Linked DNA regions of Homo sapiens. The protein of the gene in region 3 interacts with the protein of the main gene of each other region in a pairwise test. Each region holds a gene or a part of one and is shown on either strand. Other genes may lie near its edges. The genes, in order: UACA, SLC23A1, AHCYL1 and PIAS4.

What was found.
Region 1: the proteins of AHCYL1 (region 3) and UACA interact in binary tests that used the Homo sapiens proteins (3 or more experiments, as listed by UniProt).
Region 2: the proteins of AHCYL1 (region 3) and SLC23A1 interact in binary tests that used the Homo sapiens proteins (3 or more experiments, as listed by UniProt).
Region 4: the proteins of AHCYL1 (region 3) and PIAS4 interact in binary tests that used the Homo sapiens proteins (3 or more experiments, as listed by UniProt).

What each region holds. Positions count from the first base shown.
Region 1 is NC_000015.10:70,662,531-70,669,821, forward strand, and holds part of UACA (uveal autoantigen with coiled-coil domains and ankyrin repeats), read right to left. Parts: intron 6,933-7,291; coding exon 4,194-6,932; intron 2,285-4,193; coding exon 2,132-2,284; intron 1-2,131. UniProt on the Homo sapiens protein: Regulates APAF1 expression and plays an important role in the regulation of stress-induced apoptosis. Promotes apoptosis by regulating three pathways, apoptosome up-regulation, LGALS3/galectin-3 down-regulation and NF-kappa-B inactivation.
Region 2 is NC_000005.10:139,380,181-139,387,895, forward strand, and holds the start of SLC23A1 (solute carrier family 23 member 1), read right to left. Parts: upstream 3,118-7,715; 5' UTR 3,100-3,117; coding exon of another isoform or gene 3,074-3,099; coding exon 3,038-3,073; intron 2,426-3,037; coding exon 2,312-2,425; intron 1,870-2,311; coding exon 1,712-1,869; intron 707-1,711; coding exon 618-706; intron 453-617; coding exon 385-452; coding exon of another isoform or gene 373-384; intron 210-372; coding exon 28-209; intron 1-27. Other genes in the region: MZB1 (marginal zone B- and B1-cell-specific protein precursor), read right to left, coding at 7,585-7,715.
Region 3 is NC_000001.11:110,008,765-110,016,055, reverse strand, and holds part of AHCYL1 (S-adenosylhomocysteine hydrolase-like protein 1), read right to left. Parts: intron 7,023-7,291; coding exon 6,911-7,022; intron 4,843-6,910; coding exon 4,699-4,842; intron 3,695-4,698; coding exon 3,594-3,694; intron 3,160-3,593; coding exon 3,057-3,159; intron 1,294-3,056; coding exon 1,199-1,293; intron 632-1,198; coding exon 525-631; intron 1-524. UniProt on the Homo sapiens protein: Multifaceted cellular regulator which coordinates several essential cellular functions including regulation of epithelial HCO3(-) and fluid secretion, mRNA processing and DNA replication.
Region 4 is NC_000019.10:4,024,565-4,031,855, reverse strand, and holds part of PIAS4 (E3 SUMO-protein ligase PIAS4), read right to left. Parts: intron 3,711-7,291; coding exon 3,669-3,710; exon of another isoform or gene 3,667-3,668; coding exon of another isoform or gene 3,659-3,666; intron 3,347-3,658; coding exon 3,256-3,346; intron 3,137-3,255; coding exon 3,008-3,136; intron 2,926-3,007; coding exon 2,820-2,925; intron 1-2,819.

The DNA.
Region 1 (7,291 bases), on a different chromosome or scaffold from region 3:
CAAAAAAGAGCCTGCATCGCCAAGTCAATCCTAAGTCAAAAGAACAAAGCTGGAGGCATCATGCTACCTAACTTCAAACTATACTACAAGGCTACAGTAACCAAAACAGCATGCTACTGGTACCAAAACAGAGATACAGACCAATGGAACAGAACAGAGCCCTCAGAAATAATGCCACATATCTACAACTATCTGATCTTTGACAAACCTGACAAAAACAAGAAATGGGGAAACCATTCCCTATTTAATAAATGGTGCTGGGAAAACTGGCTAGCCATACGCAGAAAGCTGAAACTGGATCCCTTCCTTACACCTTATACAAAAATTAATTCAAGATGGATTAAAGACTTAAATGTTATACCTAAAACCATAAAAACCCTAGAAGAAAACCTAGGCAATACCATTCAGGACATAGGCATGGGCAAGGACTTCATGTCTAAAACACCAAAAGCAATGGCAACAAAAGCCAAAATTGACAAATGGGATCTAATTAAACTAAAGAGCTTCTGCACAGCAAAAGAAACTACCATCAGAGTGAACAGGCAACCTACAGAATGGGAGAACATTTTTGCAATCCACTCATCTGACAAAGGGCTAATATCCAGAATCTACAATGAACTCAAACACATTTACAAGAAAAAAACAACCCCATCAACAAGTGGGCGAAGGATATGAACAGACACTTCTCAAAAGAAGACATTTATGCAGCCAAAAGACACATGAAAAAATGCTCATCATCACTGGCCGTCAGAGAAATGCAAATCAAAACCACAGTGAGATACCATCTCACACCAGTTAGAATGGCAATCATTAAAAAGTCAGGAAACAACAGGTGCTGGAGAGGATGTGGAGAAATAGGAACACTTTTACACTGTTGGTGGGACTGTAAACTAGTTCAACTATTGTGGAAGTCAGTGTGGCGATTCCTCAGGGATCTCAAAGTAGAAATACCATTTGACCCAGCCATCCCATTACTGGGTATATACCCAAAGGATTATAGATCATGCTGCTATAAAGACACATGCTGCTATAAAGACACATATGTTTATTGCGGCACTGTTCACAATAGCAAGGACTTGGAACCAACCCAAATGTCCAACAATGATAGACTGGATTAAGAAAATGTGGCACATATACACCATGGAATACTATGCAGTGATAAAAAAGGATGAGTTCATGTCCTTTGTAGGGACATGGATGAAGCTGGAAACCATCATTCTCAGCAAACTATCGCAACGACAAAAAACCAAACACTGCATGTTCTCACTCATAGGTGGGAACTGAACAGTGAGAACACATGGACACAGGAAGGGGAACATCACACACTGGGGCCTGTTGTGGGGTGGGGGGAGGGGGGAGGGATAGCATTAGGTGATATATCTAATGTTAAATGACGAGTTAATGGGTGCAGCACACCAACATGGTCCATGTATACATATGTAACAAACCTGCACGTTGTGCACATGTACCCTAGAACTTAAAGTATAATAAAAATAATAATAAATGTAAACAAGTAATCAGTTATTATTCTATTTTCTTGATGAGAAAACCAAGAGTTAAAGGGAATGTTCCTTGCCACTTCCTTGTAAGTGGCAGGACTTAGACCAGACCTTCCAACATTAGCTTCTAAATCCAGGCACTTATCCTTCTATATAAGGTATAAAACCATAGGAATGCCTCTTTATTCACAAAGATAAAAGATTATTTTAAAACCTCCTTTAGTTTAGTGGACCAATATTTTAGAGAGCACCCTGCAATGAGAAAGATGCTGGATTTGGAGTCAGCCAGTTCCAGGTTTATACCCCAGCTGAATGACCCCAGGCATCAAATATGTTATTCTTTGTTTCCTTAAGAATTAAATGGAGGGAATAAATCTGCTTTGTGAGATCATGATGAAGATAAAGTTTATAGATAAAGTACGTAAAATGTTTAATATGGTGCCTGGTGTATAGTAGGCATCAAATAAGTATTATTACACCACCAGTATAGGTAACTTTTCGCATATAAAAATAATTATATTCTTGGATCCGAACATAGCTACAGAGCACTTTAATTTCTAAATGAGCCTTACAAACTAACTACAGGGAGCCAGCACATATTCCTGCAAAGCCCCGTGTGCCTGGTTACTCACGGCCAGCTGTTGCTCCAGAGATTTCACTTGGTGCTGCAGAGTGTCAATCAGCTGGCTCTGCCTCTTGGTGGGGTTCCCACTTGTGTAGGTGAGTTGGGAAAGGCCATTGAGTGCCTGTTTTAATCTTTCCACATCATTAAGCAGTTCAGTTATCTTTAAAAAAATGTTGTAGGAGAAATATATTATTCACTTATCATGTACAATGAACATCTTTGTACAGAAATCATTCCTTTTTGGAGACAGAAGCTTTATCTTTATACACCAGAAAATTGAGGTATGAATATTGCCAAGACTGTTACCAAGGATGTATACAATATGTAATTTATAATTAAATCCCTCTCCAGAAATTATTTACAAAAGCAATACCAAATTAAGAATAAATATTACATATATCCTAAGATGTGAGTATAAACATAGTCTTACTTTTAGCTAATATATAAGCATCTACGAAGGCACATGAACTATCTTCCAGGTAACATATGGAACACAGGAAGGGAAGGGGGATTCCCAGCAACAAAGTGTGAAAAGTAAAAGGGTGTGGCCCGTGTAAGTCTAGGATTAACATATGTTCCTTTTTCCTTTCAAGAGTTGTATTATTTAAGACCACTTTGTTGTAGAGAGAAAAAAAACAAGGAGGCTTGTTTATAGGAATAGGAAGTGCCTAGAAACATAGCATTTTTCCACCCTGCTTTAAAGTCAGACAGAGTCAACTTGTATGAGCTTGGCTAATTTACTTTTCTGAGCCTTAGATTCCACATTGGTGAAAGGTGGACAATCTTTCAGAGTTAAGAAAATCAGGTTGGGCACAGTGGCTCACACCTATAGTCCCAACACTTTGGGAGGCTAAGGCAGGAAGATTGTTTAAACTCAGGAATTCAAGACCAGCCTGGGCAATAGAGCAAGATACCATCTCCTCCCCCACAAAATTTTTTATTGAAAAATAATAATAGAAAAAAAACAAAGAAAATGAAATGCAATTACATGCACCCGCTCAATAAATGGCAACAAGTAGATATTAATAATTAACTCTTATATATTACTATATATATTCATAGGTACCTTCTGAACAAGCTTAGAGCATTTAAATTCTCAATCACAGAGATGGTGTGCCAGAGGACAGTATGTACAAGTACTTTCCACTGGGGAGGGCAGTCTGTGTCTGTGTTTACTCCACTGTATCCCCAGCACATGACATGCAGAAGGCATTTAATCATTACATGTTGAATGGATAAAACTGCAGCCAATCTTTATATGTCATATCCATAGTAAAAACTTTATGCAACATCAGTGTCAAAAATATTGTTGAGTACCTATTCTGTAAATTGTACCATGAGAATTAAAGCTAAGATGGAAAGTTAAGTTATAAACCCTGCTCATAAAAACTGATTGGGAAGATCAACTACATAATTCTAACAAGGTAATATAAATGTTTTAAATGGATGGCAAAGCCACAGTAAAACATCCACCTTAGAGGAGGAACTGTTTACTATAGACTAGATTGGACAGTGAGGGCTTTAAGAAGGAGGATAACATGTTAATGAATGTATAGGATTCAACTCAGTAGAAAGGAGGGAAAGGACATTCTGGGTGAGGGGATGTAGACTTTCTAGTCTGTAGAAAGACATGAGCAACAGAACATAAAATGAATTGGAGGGCTCAGTTTACTACTATGGGTGAGTACCGAGATCAACTCTAGATGCTCCCCAGTGTTCTTGGTTTCTTGCAGCCCAGAAAGAGAGCTTCCCCACCACCCTCTTCCCCATCTTTCATATGCCACAAACCCACTGGCTTTTGACTCTTCATGTATGAGACAAGTGAGCCTTAAGTCTCCCCATCGTTCCTGAATTCTTGGCTAGAACAGCTAAAGAAACAGAAGGAAAAATGCTTTTGACTTTTGTGTTACTTCACTTTTTTTTTCAATTCGGAATTTTTGCACGCAAGTTGCTAAACTGGAAAGGGTCACTTTGTTAATACCTGTGTCTACTTTCCTGTGAGATTCTGTGGTAAAGAGCACTGCTCTGGGGTTTCCAACACATAGCCGTGCAGACTACTTTGTACCTACCTTATTATCTTTTGCTTCTATTTGTTTAGCAGATTCTTGTATTCTTCTTTGTAACTCTGTGATTGTTGTTAAGGACTTATCACATCGTTCCTTCTGATCCTTAATTTCTTGCTCAATGCTGAAATGCAGTAATTCCTTCTCATCTTTTGCAGATATTTCCTTCTTTTTGGCATGCAAAACTTCCTCACATACTTCCTCATACTTTCTATTCAGATTGGCCAATTTTTCATTTAAGCTAGAAATCTGTGTCTCCAAATCACTTTTTGTTGCTTTATATTTAGACAAGTCAACTACCTCTCTAGTCTCTAATTTTTTTAATGCTTGTTTAGTATTCTGAACCTCCGACTGAAGTTTGGAGACTTCTTCCATTTTGTTTTGGCTTTCTTCTTCCTTTTCTCTCAAGCTGGCTTTTATGATTCCAACTTCTTTCTCAAATGCTTCTTTAATCTGCAAATGCTCTGCCAGGGGTACAGAAGAGTTCTTTTGATTCTCCAACAATTGATGCAGTTTGGTCACTGTCTGCTGCTCTTTCTCGTAACACCTTTGCATACTCTTCAGTTCTTCCTTTAGATTTTCAATTGTGCCATTAAGAGATTTTTTCAGAGCCTCAACCTGTTCCAATGGAACATGTTGTTTTTGCAAAAGATTTTGCACTGCAAGTATCTCAGAAGTCTGTTTGGCATTTTCTTCTACTAGCTTCTCTTTCACATTCTTTACTTCCGTGTATTTCTGTGACAAGTCTTTTAACTGTTTGTTTAGCTCGTCTGTTTTTCTGCTTAATGCTCTTTCCATTTCATGAGACTTCTCAATGAGAACTGTCTTATCTCTCAAATCTTTCTGAAGGGTAAAAATCTCCTTCTTTAACTTGTCATTCTCTTGCTTGTTTTTCTTGACTTCTTCTTCACTGACACTATACTTTTGTGTCTGCTCTGATAACTGGTCTTTTAGTTCTTTCTCTGTTGCTTTAAATTTTCTCTCGCACTCCTCAAAGCTGACAATTGGGGCGTATTTTACCTTAATGCATTCTTGTATTGTGTCGAGCTCCTTCTTCTGGGCTTTAATTTCGGCATGCAGTGTCACAATCTCTTCTTGGCCTTTTCTGTAGTTGGCCAAGATTTCAGCATTACTATCCTGCACCTTTCTCATGCTCTGACTTAGCGAGCTCATCTTTGCCTCGTGCTCTGCCAGGCTGATGTACTCAGCTTTTATTTGGTTCTGAGTGTTTTCCAGGTTTCTTTTTAATATTTCATTCTTATCTTTTATTTTTACAAATTCCTGATTTATATCTTCAAATTTTTTCTTCACATCTAATAATTCTCTGTTAGTTTTGGCTAACGTGTCATTCAGTGTCATTTTAACCTCTTCATGGGTTTTAACTGGCACATACTGATTACTCATCATCTTCTTCAAGTTAGTGTTTTCAGATGTGAGAGCGTGTATTTTCTCCTGGTCTTCACCACATTTTTTCTTAAGTTCAGACAGCTGTTTCTTAAGTTCAACAATATTGGATTTCAGAGCTATTATCTCTTTTTCATGTTTCTCAGGAGGTACAAACACAGTTTCTAGGCGGCTTACATCCTTACTTAAGCTGTCATTTTCCAGTAGCAATTTCTCCATTTCCAACTTCTTTTCTGTATATTTTTGTGTTACATCTAAAAGCTTTCTATTAAGATCATCAATAATTGCATCATGTGACTTTTTCATGTCTTCACTTACTTTTAAAGGAACATAATGATTTTTCATTTCAATTGTTAAGTTATGTGCTTGCTCCTTGAGGAGCTTATTATCCAAATAAACTTTTTCAATTTCCTTTTGTAGTGTCTGATTTTTCAATGTTAACTCAGTGATCTTCTTCCCAAGTTCTCCTGATTTCTGTTCTAATCTGCTCTTAACCTGTTCATGTTCCTCTGGTTTGACGTGCTGAGCAAGCTTGGCCTTAACATTCTCAAGTTCTCTCTTTAACTGTCTAATTTCACTAAGTGATTTTTCATGTTCTCTTTCCATTTCTACTAATTTTTTTGCTTTCTCATTCACTTCATTTGATAATGAGCTCTTCATGTTTTCAAATTTTTCAGCTGGAATGGAAAGGGCCAACTTCGCTGACAATTCTTTTGCCTGGCCTTCCATCTCTGTGACCTTTCTTCCTTTCTTCTCTCGCTCCATTTCACACATACTAAGTTCCTTCTGTAATCGCTTATTTTCTTCTATCAGCTTGCCTTCATCCCTCTTAAACTCTTCTACTATCATCTCATTTTGTTTGATTTGGTTTCTTAATTTCCCCACTTCTGCTGAAGCACCTTCATATTTTACTTTCAAGTCTTTCAACTGATCCTTCAGTTCCTCGGTTAGTCTGTGATTCCCTGAGGCTGCTTCACTTGTTAAGTGTTCTTTAAGGGCAAGAAAATGGGTCTGCATTTGTTTAACTTTACCTTCTGACTCATACATCCTCTTCTGCACATCTTTTAATGCATCTTCTAATTGCTTTATCTGTTCATCTGAATCCTCCTTGACCCTTTCACATTCTAATGCTAAAGCTTTGCATTCTGCCACTTTGTGTGCCAGTTCATTTTGGAGCTTCAGTCGGTCTTGTTTTGCTGACTCACAGAAAGTTCGCATTGCTTCTAACTCTTTCTTTAAAATTTCATTTTCAGAGTATGACGTTTGACTGGGTAAAGATAGTTCCAGAGGTCTTAACATAGATCTGCTTTGCATATGGGCTGGTATACCTGGGGAAGTACACTGAAAAGAAAAAAAAAAAGACATCAATCACAAAAGCCTAAATGAGACATTTACTATACTTATTTGCCAAACTTAGAGAAAGTTAGCACATCATCAGGAATCAAAGGGTTTTCAGATTAGGCAGTAAGATGGAAAAAAAATCACAATGCTGATTTTTGTGGTAAGGAAACAGTTCTGGATATGATTTCCTTAATACATTCACAACATTTTGAGAGTTCTGTTCACGTAAGTCTATTTCTGGCAGAACAACGGACAATGGCCATGGCTACTGGGTGCTATTTTGTCTTTCTTCCCCCATTCATTAACACCTACCCACACATGAATATCATCAACTTTATCAAAACATATTTATTATTTCT
Region 2 (7,715 bases), on a different chromosome or scaffold from region 3:
CAGGGATCAGGCCTGGTGCCTGCTCACCAAGCTGAGATGCCCCAGTGGGAGCCAGCTCGGTCGCCAGCAGCTTGGAAGACAGAAAGGCCAATGAGGGAGACAGTGGGGGTGACTGTGAGAGGCCCAATGTAGTTGAGCAGGGCCCCAGGCAGCCCCAGCAGGCCAATCACCACCTCCACCACGCTGGACACCATGATTGCACCCTGGACCTGGAAGGGCAAACATCAGCCGTAAGTCACCATGTAAAGGTCATGACCTGGCTGCTGCTAGCAGGAACAAAGCTCCTGGACCACCTCCTCAAATCCCCAAACTCAGCGGCCACCCTCACTCCCATATAGCCCCTCCTCAGGACCCGGCCTCTTCTATGCTTACATGCAAACCCACCTCCCGTATCCGTGGGTGCCAAATATGAGAGGTGTTCAGGGGCAGACTCCAGTTACCGTAGATCTCCTCTGGGGGTAGAGTCAGGGATACACACACGGACCAGGTACAGAGACAGAGAGGGAGAGAAGATGCTGCCATGGCTGCACCCTGGTGTTGACCCGGGACAGTTGCTCAGACCTCCAGGTCTCTGGGCCTCCCCTTTTCCCCAGTGCAGACCCCAGAAGTGTACCCACCTTCCGGGGGGCATTTCCATCTCTCCAGAGCCAGTATGGCTTTGGCTGGAACCAGAAATGCAAAGGCACTGGCCTGGAACAGCGGCAGCCTGGAGGAGAGGCACAAAGCAACAGGGGTGGGGAGGGGCGGGTGGGGAGGAGGGATAAAGATGCGGGGAGAGATCAGGAAGGGAGAGCACAGAGAGAGTGACAGAGACACAAGGGACAAGGGCAGATGGAAATCGTTGAGGCCCCAGGGAAGACCATCTCTAACATTTTGGCTGCCCAAGGAAGAAAACAAATGGAGCCCCCAGCTCAAAACCTGCCCCCTTCCCACCACCAGCTCCTGCACTGTGAGGAGGGGGCACCTGCCCGGAAGTGGACACCTCAGTTCCCGCATCCAGGTTTCTCTCACAATCTTCCCCTGTCCCCCGCTGCTCAAACAGCTCAAATGCCACCCAGGCCTAGGGCTGTGCACTCGGGAGCGTGGGGCCCTGGGAGGGTGGGCTGTCGAAGAGGCTGGCACCAACCCTGGGAGCTAGCTCAGGGCTGCCATCTGGGCAATATTCAGAATGGGGTTTAAGAGGGGAGAGCCGGCTAGGCTTGGTGGCTCACGCCTGTAATCCCAGCACTTTGGGAGGCCAAGGTGGGCAGATACAAATACAAAATTAGCCGGGCATGGTGGCGCATGCCTGTAATCCCAGCTACTCAGGAGGCTAAGGTGGGAGAATCGCTTGAACGCGGGAGAATCGCTTGAACCCGGGAGGTGGTGGTTGTGGTGAGCCGAGATCACGCCACCGCAATCCAGCCTAGGCAACAAGAGCAAAACTCCGTCTCCAAAAAAAAAAAAAAAAAAAAAAAAAGAGGGGAGAGCCAGCGAGGGTACAATCCCTTAAACTTGCAGATGCCTGGTCTTTGAAGTGTGCCTAGATCAAGATTCCCAGGGTTGGGGCCACGCTGCCCAGCTCTAAGGCTGGCCTGGGATAGGAGAAGCAGGTGGAGGCAGAAAGCGGCTTTTTTGTCTCACCAGTGTCCTCTGGGAGCCCACCTGCTCCTGCTGTGTGGATCACAGTGGAGGGGTGGCGGGGGACGGGTTGGGGGGCTGGGCGGCTCACCGGATGCCCACGGTGGTCTGGATGAGAGTGGTGATGCCCACGCACGTGAAGATGGTGCCGATGAGCTGACTAACCATGTGCTGGTCGTGGCCCACACACAGCGCCTCAGCCAGCAGGAAGGGCACGGCGATGGTACCACTGAAGCATGTCAGGTAGTGCTGGGCAGAGGGAGACAGCAGAGTGCATGAGGCAGGACCCCAGAGCTCCAGGGAGAGGGGACAACCTAGTGTCCTCATGCCTGCCTCAGCGGGCCTGGAACCGGCTGCCTGCCCAGGACTGGCAGTCCCCACAAGGGATTCCCAGAGAGCTACTGCTGACCACTCTGGGGGTCACTAATTTCCACTCAAGATATTCCTGCGGCTTCCGTGGAGTCGGCTCTGCTCCCTGTCACCAACACCCCACCTGGCAAGCGTCACACTCCCCCAGGGAGTTCATCTTCTTTCAGGATTCAGCCTCTTCCCGACTCCTGCTTGCTGACAGCCACTGTGCTGACCTCAGGTTTTTCTTCCTGTTACCCAAGATACTCCCTGCTGGCCAGGGAGGGGCTGGAGTCCCCGGGGAGTGTGCAGAGTGAGGGCGGGGAGGCCCTGGGGGACCCACCTGGAAGCCCAGCAGGATGCACAGGTACCAAGGTGGCACGTCCTCGATCTTGTACAACATGTCAAACTTAGGCTCTGTGGGTAGCGGGGTCGAGGGGTCCCTGGTGGTTTCATGCTGGAGGCAGCAGAGATAAGTAGCTTAGGGTGAAGTGATGGGGACAGGCAAAATCCATTCTGCCCCAGAATCAATCAGGCAGCCCAAGTGGCTTGTCAGCAACTGAGAGCGGGGTTCCCGCCCTCCCCAACAGTCCATCCACCCGGGTGCCACTTGGCCTGGCCACAGTTTTCTCCCACTTTGCATTGCTTCCCGCAGGGATGAGTCTACTGTGCCAGCTTCTAGAGCCCTCAGGACCTGCCATTTTAGCCAGGGAAGTGGACCCTTAAGTCAGAAGTCTTGGAGACCACAGGAGAGGGGGCCAAGAGGGCTCAAGACTGTGGACAAGTCCAATCCGGTCCCACCTCTGCCCCCTGGAGATCCTTGGGGTGTCACTGGCCGGGAGATTAGGCCTCTCCTGAACCCCAACCTGGAGTCAGCCAGTCCCAAAGCTGCAGGCTCCTTCACCCCCACCTCCACCCATCCCCCAGTTGCCACATTCAATTTGGGACAGTCACTCTTATCAAGTTCATCAGAACGTTTATCTCTGGCCTCCAGGAAGAAGGCCTGCACAGGCCCTCCAGCCCCCCACCCCCCCTGCCCCCCCTAGCCCCCACCCCCAGCCCCCAGCACCTGTGTCCGGCCCTCGAGGTCCTCCTGGGCCCTCATCTTTGGGGCACAGGTTTGAGCAGTTCCTGAGGAGAAGAGGGGATGACTTGACAAAGGCCAAGGAGGAGGACTTTACTCCACATATCAGGCATTGTTTGAAGTAAATCTGTAACCAGATGCCCAGCTCTGGATTGCGAAAGGGGGGCCCGGGCAGAGGTAATGTATTAACTCTCACTAGGACAGTAAAAGCCACCCAAGCCTCTGCCACATGTGCCCTTCCCTGCCCACATCTGCGCCTGGGCGCTGGACCTGTTCTTGTTTCCCAAGAGAGGGCCAGAGTCGAGGGGGTGAGGACCAGAAGTTTACCAAGCCCCAGGTGAGCGGAGAAAGAGGGAGTGGAAACAGGCACTTATTATGTAACCCCCTGTATGAGGCCCTTCCCCACTGATTAATAACTAGTTCATCATTATCATCATCATCATAGTCATTCTCGTTATTGAGGAATGGCCTTGGCCTTGTGCCAAGAAACATGGATCTGCACTGTCCCAAGTAACCCCTGTGCTGGGCGGTATTAACCCCTTTAACAGCGAAGGAAACAGATTCAGTAGATGTGATTTGACCCAAGCCATGCAGATAGCAAGTTTGCAGAAACCAATCCTAAAATTCAGGTTGGTCTGAGCTGCCTTGCCCTCACCACCCTGCACCCCTCAGGGTCCCTGAGGCAGGCAGCAGATGGGCCTCTGCAGGCAGAGCTGCCTAGGCTGGCCCAGCCGGGTCTGCACTCTGTGTCAGGGCACAGATCCCTTTCCCCTCCCAGCCACATAATTTCTGGGACCCAGTGCAAAGTAAGAATGTGAGGCCTTTATTCCAAAAGTATAAAGAATTTAAAGATAGCAGGAGCATTAGATGGAGCGTGGGGCCTTTCTATGCACCAAGCCCTGTGTGACTGCCCATCACCTAGCCCAGGAAGGCAGTCCTATGCCCAGCCTGTCTCCCCTCCTGGCAGGCCCAGCCCAGCCTGGCCCTAGGGCCTGAGATGGCAGAGGGGGACATGGGGAGGGGCCCTAAGAACTCAGGCTCCTCAGCTGGTGAGGGCTGGGCCTGAGGTCCCCATTCTGTTCCCCTCTGGGCTGCCCCAGCCCCAGCACTCTAGAGCCCACCTACTTCTGGGTCGCTGTGCCCATGGCCAGGCCCTGCCTGAAGGGCCAAGGGGCAGCACCGCTCTCCAGCTGGGCAGCAGCTTCATGCCACAGCACTGAGTCCGCCCGCCTGCCGGTGTCCACACTGTTCCTCTGTCCGCCTGTCCTCTCCTCTCCCTCTTGGCTACTGCTCCCAATTTCCAAAGTTGCTGGACCAGTTTGAAGCCTCTGCAACTCCCCAGCACTTTTCTCTCCAACTTCTCCTCCCAGAACTCCCCAGGGTGCTGTGGAGACCAAGCCCGACCCCCTGCAGATACGGCTCCATGGACACTCAATTCAACCCAAACCACACAACACGCATAGAGAACAAGGTGGAGAACACGGTCCCAGATCCACAGTAGCATGAAGGGGCCCACACACCCAGAGCTGATGCAGCCTCTCTAATCACCCCACAGAAACACAGGTCCACGTCATGGGTGCCCGGCTCCACACCCTGTCCTGAAAGCTTAGTGGGTTTCTTGGGCCCTGACTTTCCTCCTGGTGTCTAGGGTTTCTCTCCTGAGTGAAGGCCACGGATGGTGGGGCTTCAGGCAGGTCCTGGAACAGGTGAAGGATGGAGGGGGCTGAGTGCAGCTCCCAGGGAAGCTGGAGTGGCCAGGGCCTGCCCCAGGCACCTCCATTCCCCCAGCAGCCCGCCTCTCCGGTCCCCTAAGTCTGAATCCCCTCCCAGCCCTACTACTACTCAGCCAGGGACTTGGCCCAAACCCCTTCTGTTGTCTAAGTTTCGGTTTCTGCATCTGTCAAAGGGGGATTAGATTGTCTTCCTGCACATGGCTCTCGTGCAAAATAAAAATATTTCTAAAAATGAGGGTTAGAATGTTCTGTCTCTCTCCCAGGGCTTGGCCAGATCAGAGACACTCACAAACGAAACTGAAAGTTCTGGTGCCACCGATCTCCAGTTCCCAGACCTAGGTGGGGTCCAGGGCTTCTTTACTAAGGAAAAGCCCCAGCCAGAAGAATTTCCAGAGAAAGCAGGACTGAGAACCAAAATGTTGAATCTGGCTGGTCAGAAACCCAGGGCCCATCCATACCAGCTGGGGTCAAAGGCAGAGTGTGGAAAATGAACAGCCATTGGGTGTAGACCCAGTGAGACGTGTGTTCTCGGAGGGGTGCAGATAGCATGGAGTGGCTGGAATAGGTGTGCCACAAGGTGGCCTGCGTGCACAGTTTTCCTTGGTTCTCTTTTCTCATGAAGGCTCTGAAGACCTGGGATGTCACTGAAACCACCTTTGCAAAATTATGACTGAGACAGTGAAAGAGATCTAACTTAATCAGTTCCATCTTGCTTCTAACCTCCAAGTTGTCTTTCTTCATTCCTGAGTGTAGGCTGAACTAACCTTGGGAGAAACTTAGTTTTTAGTTTATAGTCTAAAACAAAGACAATAACAGCCCTTTCTCAAAGCAGACCTCCTTCTTGCCTGAGGACTAGATTGCCTTTGTAGGATGGAGCAACATTAGCCACAAGATGAGAAATTTTGGTTTAGGAGTCATGCAGCTAGAGGTTACAAGATTCTGACCCTCTCTAAACTGCTCCTAAGATCAGTGCTTGAGATACTTTGCAGACCCTGCACTTGATAGATCAGCTGGCATCACCCAGATCCATAAATTGGCTCGTTGGGACTTGTGGCCTCCACCTAGGAACTGACTCAAGGCAAGGAGACAGCTTCAACTCCCTATGATTTCAGTCCTGACCAATCAGCACTCCTGGCTCACTGGCTTCCCCGCCATCCACCAAGTTGTCCTTAAAAACTCTGCTCCCTGAATGCTTGGGGAGACTGATTTGAGTAATAGTAAAACGCTGGTCTCCTGCACAGCCAGCTCTGCGTTAATTAGTCTTTATTGCAATTCCCCTGTCTTGAGCAATCGGCTCTGTCTAGGCTTGAGCAAGGTGAACCCTTTGGGCGATTACATCACCACACCATTGATGGCTCCCTCTTACCTCTGGAAGTTGTAGGGATGCAAATTTGGCCTTCTGTAGGAGGGATGTAATATTGTGAAATATATATTTGGTCTTTGACCTCTGTTTCCTGGAGTACAATTTCTAAAATCTTAGAATCCCCAAAATGATGTCTTCTTGTGTGCTAATGATTGACTGATGGCTGGCAGCCCCTAGGGTAGCTTCAGGACAGGGGCTGGTCACCAGAGAGACCAAGGCAGGATTTCAGCCTCCCCTCACCCCCCATCCCCAGTCAAGGGAGGGCAGACAGGTTGGAGGGTAAGTTGTTCGCCAATGGCCAATGGCTTAATGAATCATACCTACGTAATGAATTATCCACAGAAACTCAAAATTGCAGGGTTCAGAGATCTTCTGGATAGCTGAACACGTGGAGGTTCCTGGACGGTGTTGCATCCATGGAGGGCATGGAAGCTCCGAGCCCATTCCCCATACCTTGCCCTACACATCTCTGCATCTGTATCCTTTGTAACATCCTTTATAATAAACTGGTAAACGTTTCTCTGAGCTCTGCGAACCACTCTAGCAAATTAGTTGAACTCAAAAGAGGGGGTTGTGGGAACCTCATCTTGAAGCCAGTAGGCCAGAAGCTCCAGAGGCCTGGAGTTGGAACTGGTGTCTGAATGGGGGACAGAATGGTGGACTGAGCCCTCAGCCTGTGGGATCTGACACTATCTCCAGGTAGATAGTGCCAGAATTGAATTTTGGAGGGCACCCAGCTGGTGTCAGCTGCAGAATTGCTTGCCTGGTGTGTGGGGGAAAGCCCCCACGCATTCGGTCACAGCCATCTTCTGTGCTGTTGTCGAGTGAGAGAATAGAAAAAGCATTTTGAAGGCCGGGCGCGGTGGCTCATGCCTGTAATCTCAGCACTTTGGGAAGCCAAGGCGAGCGGATCACCTGAGGTCAGGAGTTCAAGACCAGCCTGGCCAACATGGTGAAATCCCGTCTCTACTAAAAATACAAAAATTAGCCGGGCATGATGGTGGGTGCCTGTAATCCCAGCTACTCAGGAGGCTGAGGTGGGAGAATCGCCTGAACCTGGGAGGTGGAGGTTGCATCGAGCCAAGAACACTGCACTCCAGCCTGGGTGACAGAGTGAGACTGTCTCAAAAAAAAAAAATTGATTTTGAGAGTTTTTTTTTTTTTTTCACAAGGGACATCAGCAGAAACACCAATGTCTGCACTCCCAGCCCCACAAGCACCTTTTGCAGAGAAAAGAAGTGAGGTCACTGGGTTTTATTTGAGTCCAGAGGGGAAGGCGTTGACTCCCACCCAGGCCCGAGTGCCCTGAGGCTGGAGGAGGGAGGCAGGATGGCAGCACAGAGCAAGGGCTTCCTGCCCTCCTGGCTGCCTGCAGACGGGAGTGGAGACCGTCAGAGCAAGCCCCAGCTTCTTTCAGAGGAGGGTAGAGTCCAGGACTAGAGCTCTTCTCTTGTGGCTGACACCTTCTCTGAGCAGGCCCCCTGGGGTCCCCCACATAGCAATGCCTCCAGAGCCCCTCGGCCTTGTTGGTGGGCTTCATAGATCTGGTCTTCTCCAAACTCCCCCA
Region 3 (7,291 bases):
TTCAATAGAAACCCATGCCTACTTCTGATAAACAAAGACTATCAATGATTCTGATATGGTTCCGTGTGTGTGTGAGTAAGCATGCGCAATGTGCCCCCAAGAAACACTCTTTCAGATATCTTTTCAGTATTCCAACAAGCCAAGAATATTTTGCCCAGTTTTACTTTTTGTAGTGTGTATAACATGTAGTTTTACAATAGGATTGTTTTTCATATTTCAAATATAAAATGATAATACAATATTGAATACAGTTTTTCAAGATACATTTATTCCCTACCCGCCCCTCAACACTAGTTGAGAATCACTCAATGGAGTAAATGGGAGAGAAAAATGTATGAACTAGAACCTGAAATAACTTCCTTCTAGGATCAACTTGATTTTTCAAAAGTAAAAACTCAAAATTTTATCTAATGAAGATATTCCCATTTAGTTATAAGTCTGAAACACAGTCCTAAAGCCTAACAGAGACCAGGAGAGTTTGCTGAGGCAAGGACACAAGGGGCAGCTACTCCAGAATCTGTTACCTGTGAACACCAGTCACGCTCTCTTCCACAATGCCTCGGATCTTCTTAAACACGTTTGGATACTTCTTATAAACCCAGTGGGTTAAGTCTCCCCCATCATCCAGGATCTATAGAACAGCCAGAAGACTTCTATGGGCATTCAGGCTGCTAGGGCTGGGGGGAACTTTGAACCCACTTTCTGTACTAGTAAGAGAGCCCTGTATGTTTTGGAAGAGTACTCCTCAGAGCTCCCTAGAGCAGGCTTAGAGAGTGGAAATACAGTCAAATTTGTTGGTGTAAAATGGTTAAAAGGATTCCTAGGTTTGCTTTAGGCTACAGTGATGAGTATTAAGCTAATCACAGACTCATTTTTAGTCTAGAGTCTTGAAATATATAGCCCCTTTGAATGCAAAAGGAGAACTGGGGCAGGAAGGAAAGAAAGCAGAATCCTACTCCAAAGAAGCACCACTATTTTGTTCTGGTGTGTTTGAGCCATGTGTTCAGCTAGTCTTACCCTTCCCCCACCTTTCCATTCAGTACTCAGACCCATTCTGAATAGGTATCAAGCTAAACACTTTAGCAACAAAGTCAGTGCATAAGACCAAACATCCAAAACATATTTAGGGAACCATGCTTTGAGGGAAAAAAAGGAAATAAATCTATTGTCAAAGTGTAGGATGTATATGCATTATTACCATGTTGGCCTGCCACCCATCCATGTTCACACAGCGGTCAATACACCACCAGAAGTCATCTTCTGACTCGCCCTTCCAAGCGAACACTGCAACTCCTGTAGAGACAGAAATGAATCAGCTGATTCCTCCTTTGAGGAGTGTCCTGTACCAAATCACTTTCTGAGATCCATGTGAAGAGAAAAAGGCAAAAGAAACAATTTCAGAAGGGAAAAAATTCAGAGCCAAAAGTCAAAGAATCACTTTTGGTTCAGAAATTAATTAGGTTAAGAAATTAAGGAATTTTTGCTTTAAAAGTAGTTTGGAACCTTAAAGTGTTCCTTTCTCTGGACTAATTTTATACTTAGAAGGAGATAAAATGAAGTGGGAATTAATAAAAGTTGTTAACTGGAGCATTATTGATATTAGTAAACATCTTGAAACAACCTAAATGTTCTCCATTAGGAAAATAGTGAGGTGAAATCACATAGCCATATGAATGACTATTACAAATGATGCTGTCAAAGTTTTCAGTGACATGGAAAACTACGTCTGAAAATATTGTATTTAGGTTATAAAACTGTATACATATTAGAATTTATGTAAAGTAGAAGAAAGGAAAAGGAAAAACATTAATCAAATACTCTATGTAGTGGGATTGTAGGGTTTTGGGGAACTTCCTAAATTTTTTGCAGTGAACACTTATCAGAAAAGAATAAACAAAAAAACCCAAAAGTATTATAAAGTTGCTTTCTGAGGATCTTAAAAAGATGAGAGGTCCGGCTGGGTGTGGTGTCTCACGCCTGTAATCCCAGCACTTTGGGAGGCCAAGGCAGGCAGATCACTTGAGGTCAGGAGTTCGAGACCAGCCTGGCCAACATGGTGAAACCCCATCTCTACTAAAAATACAAAAATTAGCTGGGTGTGGTGGCATGCCACTGCAATCCCAGCTACTCAGGAGGCTGAGGCATGAGAATCACTTGAACCCAGGAGGCAGGGGTTGCAGTGAGCCGAGACTGCGCCATTGCACTCCAGCCTGGGCAACAGAGTAAGACTCCATCTTAAGAAAAAAAAAAAAAGAAAGAAAGATGAGAGGTCCTCAAAGAAACTTCACGGTGATTTTCTTCTGAATATTTGAATAATAAAAATTATTATTATTGTTATTAATTTTTGAGATGGAGTTTCACTCTGTCGCCCAGGCTGCAGTGCAGTGGCATGATCTCGGCTCACTGCAGCCTCTGCCTCCCAGGTTCAAGTGGTTCTCCTACCTCAGCCTCCTGAGTAGCTGAGATTACAGGCGCACACCACCACTCCCGGCTAACTTTTGTATTTTTAGTAGAGGTGGGGTTTCACCATGTTGGCCAGACCGTTCTTGAACTCTTGGCCTCAAGTGATCTGCCCGCCTCGGCCTCCCAAAGTGCTGGGATTATAGGCGTGGGCCACCAGGCCTGGCCTGAATAATAAAAAATTATTTTACGTTTAATTAAACTCACAAATAGCTCATATATTTTCAATGCCATACTGAATACCAAATTATTTAATGCACTATCAATATGAAAGGTACTTCTTACTTGTGCTCTCTCACAAAATTGATGGCACTTATATAGTTTAACATTCTTCCTCGTTCAACTAACACTAGAACTGGGCATGACCCCATGCCATTAGATTATTTTCAAAGGCCATTTTTAATGACTACATAATATTCCACCATGGATATCCATCTTAATTTTATTATCCACTTTCTTCCTGTTGAGGTTTTTATCATGCACAATTTTATAGCCTCTAGACATATATGATATTGTAATGACAATTTTGATACAAAAAAGTTATATGTTTGGATAACTATTTTGGGGCAAAGTTGGTGGGAAAAAACCGAACTTACCAGCCTCAGCCAGTGCTGCAGCTACTTCATTCTGAGTTGAGTAGATGTTACAAGCAGACCAGCGGCACTGAGCCCCCAGGGCACAGAGTGTCTCAATCAACACCTGTGTAGAAGTGTAGGAAGACAGGGTGAGGAAGAGAAGGGCCACCCAGGAATGGAGAGCAAGCCTCATCAAGATAGCAATACCTATCAACTCTGCACCAACAGGTGCTACACTGGAAAGTTACAAAAGGGTGTACTCCAGCGAGGTGGTGCACTGGTATTTAACTTTGCATAAAACATAGGTTTCTAAAAGTCTTTATAACATTTTATAACAATCATATGTTTGCAAATCTAGACTTTCCTAGGTCAAGTTTGCTGAAAGTGGGTTTACATATTAAAAAAAAACCCAGAAAACCCCATTATTGTGTAACAGGGAGATCCTATTAATAGTTAGCATTTGGAGGTTGGCGAGTTAGGAAAGGAAAAGTGAAAAAAAAAAAATTGATTTCTTTCTTCCCCTTATCAGAAGTCCCTCTTTTCTTCCAACAAACTCACCGCTGTCTGGGCTGTGATGTGTGTACAGCCCACTATTTTAGCACCAGCCAAGGGCTTCTCCCCCTGAGCACGTTTCCTGAGTGAAATCAGAGCAGACATGTCTGTGAAAGAACAGAGGATTTGAGCTAGGTCTGCACTAGCAGTATCATCAGTTCCTGCCCCAGGGCTGGTCTGGATCTGTTGAGATATGGTGAGATGAGGCAGAAAAACTTTAAGCCTATTTCCATGACGACTGGCAGCTTCAACGGCACAGTAATAGTGGAGAGCAGTCATGCAACCACTTGGAGTTTCTCTCTTCCTCTACTGCTTCAGCTTTATACACAGAGGACTGAACAGAGAATGAAGTAAATCCTTAAAACTGATCAAAATGAAGGGTGAGTCTCATCATTCATTTGGGAAGAGAGGAAAATAGTTAAGGCATTGGCTAATAGATTCCTATATATAATCATCAGACCAGAAAGACTGTACCCTCAGCCGAAACCACTAACTTCTGTTTTTCTATGCTGTCTTACCATGTCCTGTCAGTCTGTTTGGTTTCTCTATTCTCTCTCAGTATAGAACATGCCTTCAATGTGTAAACAACACAAGAGTAAAGAGGACCTTACTGGGAGTGGCTGGGGTAGAGAAACCAAGATTTAACTGTCAGTCACTTTTACTCTGCTCCAGCAGAGGGTGCTCAGGACCAAACAAGACTCTAGGTCACCACATCCTTACCTTAAAACCCTTCCTCATCAGCTGCTTCTGGGCAATCTGGGTCTCTGCCATTGGCAGCTATAGTAAGATCCCATATAACCAACTACCACGTAGTGATCTAGGACTTGTCAATTCTGCCATGTAGATCTTTGAATACAGTGGTGGGGTGGGGCAAGGAGGAAAACAGAAACTACTCTGTGTGTAATCACCACATGCTGAGAACAGAAGGAAGAGAGAACAAAATCCCAAGACTTAAGTTCCATAGAGAGAGAAGTGTTTATCCGAAAGTCCATAATACTGTCTTTCTTCCCAGTACACTTTCAAGTCAGCTTTCAAGTCTTAAGTTGTTTGTGGATTCTGATGGCCAACAAGAGGGTTGTTTCTGGTCCCCTAACCCACTCCCTTTCTTTACCTTGCTCTGCAATCTCAATCTCCCGGCGTCCAAATTCTGCCTGCTTGATGTTCTTCACACAGAAATTGCTGCTGCCCTTGGAGTTGGTTTGCTGCTTCTCTCGGGGAGAAACCTCATCATCAGAGCTATCTGTGTAGGATGCAGCTAGAGCCAGGAAAGAAAAAAACAAGGATAGAAAAACCTCAGTGGTCCCCAACTCTACAGAGTGCAGTCCCCAAGGGACTTTCATTTAAGTTAAGGGAACACCCTTAATTGGAGCTACCTTTTACAACGCTCTCAGTTCTGCTCCTCTAGGTTCTAATAGGTGGTATGAATGAAACTGTTGTGGGTACTTCCATGTTGCAGCTCTTTCACCCACCCTAACAATACTGTGCTATTAGTGCCTATGACAAGGGACCACTGATTATAAACCTGCAGCTATAGTAATCCCAGATAATAGAGGTACTTGGTCCCATCTGGATTGGAACCAGACCTGGCAAAAACAGAAGAATAATTTAGGGCAGATAAGGAATGCTATTTCTATAGATCACTGGTTCTCAAATTCAAGCATCTATCAGGATCACATGGAAGGTTTGTTAAAACATATATTGCTAGACCCTGTGGCCAGTTTCCCATCTGGCAGGTATGGAGTGGCACCTAAGCATTAGTAGTTCCAACAAGTTACCAGGTGTTGCTGATGCTGCTAGTCAGAGGATCACACTTTGAGAACCATGGATATAGACAAAAGTGATAAGATAGTCTTACAAGGGATTTTACACTAAGTTGTGCTCAAGGAATAGAGAAAGAAAGAAATGGCACAAAAGGCAAACAGCTCTGGTTCTACTGATAGCCCTGGGAAAGTCTGTCAAAATGATCAACTTTAAAAAGTGGTTTCACATAAAAGCTAAAAATACCACTTATCTGACAGATATGCAAGAGGATATACAACAATCATTCCTTACCTCTCAAATCACTTCTTTCCTCTCTGAATTGAGTACTTTCCTCATCACGGTTTCTGCTAGTATACCTGGACTCTCTCACTGACTGACTTCTATGTACAGGTCCTCCTCCTGTCCAGCTAACACAAATACTACTAAAGATTATCTTCCCCACTATGACATTTTAACCATATCACTAAGCTTTTTAAAAGGCTCTAATACATTTCTGTAACATGGCCGTCAAGATCTTTGAAGACTTTTTAAAAGCCTTCTTCAGTCGTTTTATCGTTCTTCCTCTCATAACTCAATTTTTCACAATTAATTTTTCTTCTTTCTTGGCTACAGTTAGCCTGCTTGTCACACACCACTTTTTATCTGTCACTCCAGGATCATATATAACAGCTTTTCATTTATGTTAATCCTTAATGTTGATAATACAATGCAAAAGGTATTCTGGCAAAGGACAATGAATGGCTTTTGGTACAAATATCTCTGCTGACATTAATAGCAATCTGTAACCTCTTAATCTTTTAACAATGAGTCTTCAGTTAAACAATGACAAGGTTGTATTGGATGCCCCATTAGATGTCCCTAATGTTTTCTCCTGTATTCATCTGCCAAGATTCTATATTCTTTTCCATGCTAATTTTCTAATACATGCTCTATAGTTGGGAAAGACACAATACAAAACAGAAAAAGACTTTATTTACAGAGAGTTAAGACAGGAGGAGAGAACTAAAAAGAAACAGAGCTGGAGTTACATTACAGTAGTCTGAATCTTTCCTGCTCCAGAGTCTAACAGGGGAGGATATTCCAACAGAAAGAATAACCTAATAAATAAGAGAAGCCAAAATACTAATTTTATTGTTACAATCTAAGCAGTCTTGGAGACAAGAAAGAAAGAGATAGGTGACAGGGTATATTTTACACAAAGAAATCGTGCTTCAAAATGCACTTCTTTTTTAAGTCCAATTCTGTCAGCCAAAATAGCATTGATTTCTTCCTTTTGAAATGGGCGGATCAATGTGGGAATGGGAACTAGCCCAGTCCTACCAACTGGGCACTGGCCACAGACCACACACACAGACAGCCAGGGGGAAGAAAGTCTCGAGTCGACAAAAGCTTCCCCAGCTACTAGCTTGGCTGCAGAACATTCCCACTGCCCAGCCACTAACAGTTTTCAGCACAAAGGTGGGCAGTCATAACATGAGGTATTTTCAGATTGCTAAGTGAAGAGCACTGGTAGCAAACAGGGAAGAGAGATTAGAGAGGACATGGAGTTCATTCACACCTACCTGAACTGTAGCTGTCAGTGGAGGACTGTGAGATCGAGCGAGACAAAGATCTTCGGCCAGTTTTGGTGGGGAATTTGGTGAACTCCTGCATGTCATCAGCAAACTGGATTTGCTATACAAAAGGAAGACAAAAAGTTGAAAACTTATAAGGAAAATCCATGAAATGTTTTTTTTTTTAAGGATACATTGTCTTTCCCTAAAAGCCATGTAATCACATGGTTCCTACTAAGCCAGCAACTTTCCCACCAGAAATGGGGGAAGGCCGAGGCTACTCTCTGACTTCTCCCAACACGTCAATCACTGTCTCTTCCCAATTGTTTCTGCAGGATTTGGGAGGAGGGGCTAAGGTTAAGAACCAATTTCGTTTAGTATATGTTCAAT
Region 4 (7,291 bases), on a different chromosome or scaffold from region 3:
TAAAGCAAACTCTCCCTCCTTTGTGTATGGAGAGACGTGCGCAGCAGGAAGGGTTCAAGTGAGGCAAAGGTGAGGACTTCCTAGGTGCAGCAAGAAAGAAATCCAGTGACAGAGAGGCTGAGCCTGGGGCCGGCTGTGGGAAGCAGCAGGAGACCCCTTCGGAGAGGAAGCCTGACCCCACAGCCCCCAGCACTGCGGGCTCTGGTCACTGAGGAGTTAAGCCCGGCCCCCACCCCGTGGGCCTAGAAGAGGCCTGCCCGGCCCCAGCCTCCTCCCTCAAGTTGGCCATGTCCCCACAGGCAGGGAAGGTCGGGGGCGGTTGAAAAAAGGGCCCTTTGAGGGAAGAGGGAGGTGGGGCGGGGTAACCCAGGACACAGAACCCTAACTTTGCCACTCTGTGCCTCAGTGTCCCCACTGGTCACACGGGTACATAGCCAGGCCCTCCATCCCCGAGCCTGGAGGAGGCTGGCCAAGGATGCCGGACTCCGTGGAGGGACCCCTCACCCTCCACGTCCTGCTCTGCAGAGGGGGTGCTGCCGGCTATCTTTCCTGACTTGGGGGGCTGGAGTGCACAGGAGGCTTCAACACGATGGGGCTCGCAGGCCCCTGGCAGTGCCAGCACTGCTCCAGGCTTCTGGACACCCAGGCAAGGAGGTGCCCTTTGGTGGTCAGGAACAGGGACCAGAGGCCTGGGCCTGGCTGTGCCAGGAGGGCAGTGCTCATGGGGAACTCTCTGGCCTGGGCACAGGGGCCTGGGCAGCTAGGAGGGGCAGCTGGAAGACCCTCTGGCCCACATTCTGCCAAGGGGCTGGGGTGGTGCCCAGATTCCACCTGAAAACAGCCACCATTCGGGAAGGGGGTGCGAGCAAACCCGGCTGGCCCAGAACCGCCCTCTCGTCAGCCTGGCAGGTGGTCCCAGTCCTCACCCACCTGCCTGACTCCCACTCCCAGCTCCAAATGACTCCAGGTTAGGCCTAGCCTCTCCATAAGACAGGCCTGCAGAGCCCACTGAGGCCTGGGCCCCAAGCATGTGGGGTCCAGAGAGATGTCCAGGTGCCCTCAAGATGGCTCAGATCTATTCTCCTGAAGACAGTGGCCACCAGAGAAGGCCAGCGACTTTCTGAGGCCACACAGCCGCCAGGCAGGGCTAACTGCTGTACGCTGGCTTTGTGCTGCGTGGCTGCTTGGGGTGAGGACTGATTTGCCTACCAGGCTTGGCAGGCTTTTTTTTTTTTTTGAGATGGAGTCTCACACTCTCACCCAGGCTGGAGTGCAGTGGCACGATCTCCGCTCACTGCAAGCTCTGCCTCCTGGGTTCACGCCATTCTCCTGCCTCAGCCTCCCGAGTAGCTGGGACTACAGGTGCCTGCCACCACGCCTGGCTAATTTTTTGTATTTTTAGTAGAGATGGGGTTTCACCATATTAGCCAGGATGGTGTTGCTCTCCTGACCCCATGATCTGCCCGCCTCGGCCTCCCAAAGTGCTGGGATTACAGGTGTGAGCCACTGCGCCTTGCCGGCAGGCTTTCTTTTAAAATTGCTCTGCGTGTCACTTAAAAAAAATTGTTTTCATTGTTACAAGGACAAAAGAGACCAGGTGCGAAAGTGGCCAAGACTGTAATCCCAGCACTTTGGGAGATTGAGGCAGGTGCACTGCTTGAGCTCAGGAGTTTACGACCAGCCTGGGCAACACAGCAAGATTCCATCTCTACGAAACATTAAAAAATTAGTTGGGGCCGGGCGTGGTGGCTCACGCCTGTAATCCCAGCACTTTGGGAGGCCGAGGCAAGCGGATCACGAGGTCAGGAGCTTAAGACCATCCTGGCTAACAAGGTGAAACCCCGTCTCTACTGAAAATACAAAAAATTAGCCGGGCATGGTGGCACATGCCTGTAGTCCCAGCTACTCAGGAGGCTGAGGCAGAAGAATCGCTTGAACCCAGGAGGTAGAGGTTTCAGTGAGCCGAGATCGTGCCATTGCACTCCAGCCTGGGCAACAGAGTGAGACTCTGTCTCAAAAAAAAAAAAAAAAAAAAAAAAAAAAATTAGTTGGGTGTGGTGGTGAACACATGTGGTCCCAAGCTACTCAGGAGGCTGAGGCAGGAGGATGGCTTGAGCCCGAGTTAGAGGCTACAGTGAGCCACGATCCCACCACTGCACTGTAGCCTGGGCGATACACCGAGACACTTTTTTTTTTGAGGTGGAGTCTCGCTCTGCAGCCCAGGCTGGAGTGCAGCGATGCAGTCTCAGCTCACTGCAACCTCTACCTCCCAGAGACCCTGACTCTCTAAAAAAAAAAGAAAAAGAAAAAGAAAAAAGATTAAACGGGGCCTCACCAACGTGAGGTCAGACCGCCGCCGCCCGTCTTCCTCCCACAGCAACTGCCTCCACGACCCTGGCCGTCCGTGACCCGCCAGGTCCCGCAGCACCCTCGGCCCCGCTGAGGCAACGAGAAGGGGCTGCTTAGACCACAGCTCCCTCTGTGCTCCTCTCACCCCTCCCGGCCTCTGTGCTGTCCCGGAATGAGGCTCCAGCTCTTCTGCTGCTTAGACCCCTGTGGGCTGGAGCACCTGGGGCCAGCAACACGAGGTGTGACCCCACAGGCCTCCGCACAGCAGCTCCCACTGCCAAGTGCCCCCTCTGCCATCCGTATCCTCCAGAGACCTCCCCAGCCACAGCCGGGGGGCCATGGACCCCCAGAGTGACAGGCGGCCCCTGATCGATCTCCTCCGGGTGCAGGGCCCCCCGCTTCACCCAGCACAGGGCGGGTTTCCAGGGTGGACTTGGCACCCCTCGGCCGAGGTGGCCTGAGCTGCTCACCCAGTGCCTTGCACAGCTCCGGGTGCTTTACCCCAATGGTCTTCAGCCTCTGCAGCAGCTCCGATGAGGTCAGCTGCCGCACCAGGTACAGGGCCACCGAGTAGCTCTGGGGACAGAAGGAAGGGGTCAGGGCTGGCAGGACGGGGCCGGGGTTGGGGGGCAGGGTGGGCACCCGGGCACGCACTCACCTTGCCGTAGTTCCCCCAGGTGACAGTGATGCGGTTGGTGGCCGAGGACAGGTACATGAGGTGGGTGAGGTTGATGGGGCGGCACGGCCTCTTGGGCTCCACCCCGGGCTTATTGGAGGGGTAGTAGCCCTGCAAGCAGATGGGCCGCTCAGCCTCGAGCCAAGAGCGGCTGGGAAATCCGACGGCCCCCACCCTCCCTCCACGCCCCCCAAACCCGTGCAGCCGACGCGGGGGCGGGGCATGCTCACCGGGACGGAGCAGTAGCTGTGGTTGACCTTCACAGCGATGTTGGGCGGGTACTGGTCCTCCTGAGGGCAGCTGGTGTCTGAGTAACAGATTCTGCAACGACAACAGGGACCATGGGGCGGGGAGGGGGCGCACAGGAGGGACTAGGCTGCTGCGGGGGTACACGAGTGGTAGCCAGGCGGCAGTGATGGGGGCACCGGAGAATGTGACACGGGGGGTATCAGGGCCCCCGGGTGTGGCCTGAGTGGGGGTCGGATGGTGATGTATCCCCAGACAGGGATAGACAGCAGGTGAGGAGAGCTGGGCTCTGCTGTTAGCAGGGGAGACTGAGAAGGGCCTGGGCCAGGACTGGGGGGCGGGGAGGGGCGGGTGGCTGGGGGTCCAGCCCTGGGGTCGCGGGCACACCTGGGCATACCTCAGGACGACCTGCACGGCTTTAACTCCGGGCTGCAGTTCCCTGTGGGTGTGGAGCAAACCAGAGGAAAGGAAAGGAGAGCTGAGTGAGGAGGGCGTGACCCCAGCCCACCCGACAAGGTGGAGACCGCCACACCACAAGGCTCCCTCCCCCAGAGCTGGGAAACTGAGGCCCAGGACTCTTTTGTACGGGCTGGGTGAGAGGAGTGGCTGTGAGGTCAGGAGAGGGGCTGGCCTCCCTGGAAAATGCAACAGAATCCACAGCAAAACCCTGAACCAGAGAGGGCAGCCAGGTGCCTCTCCCTGCGAAGAAACATAGCTAAAACGTGCATGCGGGAATCTAGCAGCTGGCTCACAATGGCAAGAAAACACCCAGTTTGGGAGGTCAAGGCTGGCGGAGCTCTTGAGCCCAGGAATTTGAGACGAGCCTGCGCAACATGGTGAAACTGTCTCCACAAAAAATTACCCAGGCGTGGTGGTGCACACCTGTGGTCCCAGCTGCTTGGAGGCTGAGGCAGGGGGATCGTCTGAACCCATGGAGGCACAGGCTGCAAGCTATGATTGCACCACTGCACTCCAGCCTGGGTAACAAAGAGAAACACTCTCCAAAAAAAAAAAAACAAAAACCAGTAACACCTGAGGATAAACTTTAACAAGAAACGCCCCCAGAAGAAGAGGAAAAAGTCTATCTACCCAAAGACGCATCCGTGGATGTTCACAGCAGAACTGACCACAACAGCCACAAACTAGCAGCATCCTGAGTGTCCTTCCGTAGACCGAAGGACCAACACGCACGGGACGCGACCCAGCCATGGAAAGGAGCCAGGCTCAGACCCAGGCCTCAGCACAGGTGCACCGTGAGGATGTCCCACCCAGTGAGAGACGCCAGACACGAAAGGACACACAAGGCAGGTGGCTCACGCCAGTAACCCTGGCACTTTGGGAGGCGGAGGTGGGTGGGTCACTTGAGGTCAGGAGTTCGAGACAAGCCTGGGCAATATGGTGAAACCTCGTCTCTACTAAAAATACAAAAATTAGGCCAGGTGCAGTGGCTCACGCCTGTAATCCCAGCACTTTGGGAGGCCGAGGCGGGCGGATAACAAGGTCAGGAGATCGAGACCCTCCTGGCTATCATGGTGAAACCCCGTCTCTACTAAAAATACAAAAAAAAAAATCAGCCAGGCGTGGTGGCGGGTGCCTGTAGTCCCAGCTACTTGGGAGGCTGAGGCAGGAGAATGGCGTGAACCCAGGAGGCAGAGCTTGCAGTGAGCCAAGATCGTGCCACTGCACTCCAGCCTGGGCCTCGGAGTGTGACTCTGTCTCAAAAAAAATACAAATATTAGCTGAGTGTGGTGGTGCACGCCTGTAATCCTAGCTAGTCAGAAGTCTGGGGCAAGAGAATCACTTGAACCTGGGAGGCGGAGATTGCAGTGAACTGAGATCGCGACACTGCACTCCAGCCTGGGCGACAGAGTGAGATTCTGTCTTAAATAATAATAATAAACGAAAGCCACATAGTATGTGATTCCACTTCTATGAAATGTCCAGGACAGACCCATTTACAGACAGGAGGGGATGCGTGGGGGCCAGTGGATGAAGGGTGGCAGCTGCTGGGGATGGACATGACTGCCCTGAGACTAGGCAGTGGTGGGAGCTGCGATACCTACTGATCCACGAGAACCCACTCGATGACACCCTTAAAAACTGTATATTCTATGGTATGCAAATCATATCTCGACATAAGAAAAAGAAATGTGGGATGGGCAGGGTGGCTCACGCCTGTAATCCCAGCACTTTGGGAGGCAGATGTGGGGTGGATCACGAGGTCAAGAGATTGAGATCATCTTGGCCAACATGGTGAAACCCTGTCTCTACTAAAAATACAAAAATTAGCCAGGCGTGGTGGTGCGCACCTGTAGTCCCAGCTACTCGGGAGGCTGAGTCAGGAGAATCGCTTGAACCTGGGAGGCAGAAGTTGCAGTGAGCCGACATCACGCCACTGCACTCCAGCCTGGCGACAGAGCGACTTCATTTCAAAAAAAAAAAAGAAAAAGAAAAAGAAATGTCCAGAAGCTTTCTGAGGAGAAAACCAAACTTTTTTTTTTTTTTTTTTTTGAGACGGAGTCTCCCTTTGTTGCCCAGGCTGGAGTGCAGTGGCAGGATCTCGGCTCACTGCAAGCTCCGCCTCCCGGGTTCACGCCATTCTCCTGCCTCAGCCTCCCGAGTAGCTGGGACTACAGGCGCCCGTCACCACACCCGGCTAATTTTTTTGTATGTTTGGTAGAGACGGGGTTTCACTGTGTTAGCCAAGATGGTCTCGATCTTCTGACCTCGTGATCCACCTGCCTTGGCCTCCCAAAGGGCTGCGATTACAGTTGTGAGCCACCGTGCCCAGCCCAAACTGATTTTTTTATACTGTGTGGCTGGCTCTGAGCACTCTGCAGCAGGGACCCAGTGCAGGTGGAGGCTGTGCTGACCCAGGTACATAGACAAGGAAGACGAGGCTGAGAAAGACGAGGTCGCCACCTTGGGTCACCCAGGCAGAGAGGCCTCCATGGCCAAGCCTGGCTCGGCTGGATCTGAACCCTTACTAGGTGTGAGGGCCAGGCTGGGAGGCCCCAGGAACCTGGCCCCACAGCAGGTGGGGGCGGTGGGTCTGAAGCGGCTGGGCACGAGAAGCTAGGCATTAAATGGGGGCGCCCGGCCCAGCCCTGCCATGGACTCAGGGGTGACCTGGGCAAATGGCCTCCCCTGTCCTAAGGGCCCAGCACCTACCATTAGCCTGCCCAGCAGGAATCTGTCTCAGCTGGAGGCAGTACAGCCTCGGAGAGACTGAGGGAGGAGCAGAGCGCAGGGCAGCCACACTGGCCCCTCACCTGCCACAGTTCAACCGTCCTCATCTGAGGACGACCCTGCCCCAGGCGACACCGAGCTGTGTCTGGGGACATCTGTGGTTGTCAGAGTTAGGGGTGTTCCTGGCACAGAGCAGGTGGAGGCCAGGGATGCTGCTCAGCAGCCTGCAGTGCCCAGGACGGCCCCACCGAGGGAACCATCCCACCTCACTATCCACGGTATGGAGGGGGAAACCCCGTATTCATTATATAACTGGGAAAAAACCTGACTTCCGCCAGGCGCAGTGGCTCACGCCTGTAATCCCAGCATTCTGGGAGGCTGAGGTGGGTGAATCACCTGAGTCAGGAATTCGAGACCAGCCTGATCAACATGGCAAAACCCTATCTCTACTAAAAATACAAGATTAGCCGGGCGTGGTAGTGAGCGCCTGTAATCCCAGCTACTTGGGAGGCTGAGGCAGGAGAATTGCTTGAATCCAGCAGGTGGAGGTTGCAGGAAGCCAAAATCGCGCCACTGCACTCCAGCCTGGAAGCCTGGATAACAAGAGCTACACTCAGTCTCAAAAAAAAAAAACAAAAAAACACCTGACTTAACTTCCTGCTCATGCTGGACACCAGAATAAATTCCTAAGGCGGGCGGTGTAAACCGGGGACCCCCAGCTCCTGGGATTCACCTACTTTCTCCCCCTCCAATTCAGGGTGTGGATTTCAATGTATGCAGCCTTCTGGGACCTCAGCAGGGCAGAGGATCATGGGACACAGAGTCTCTTGG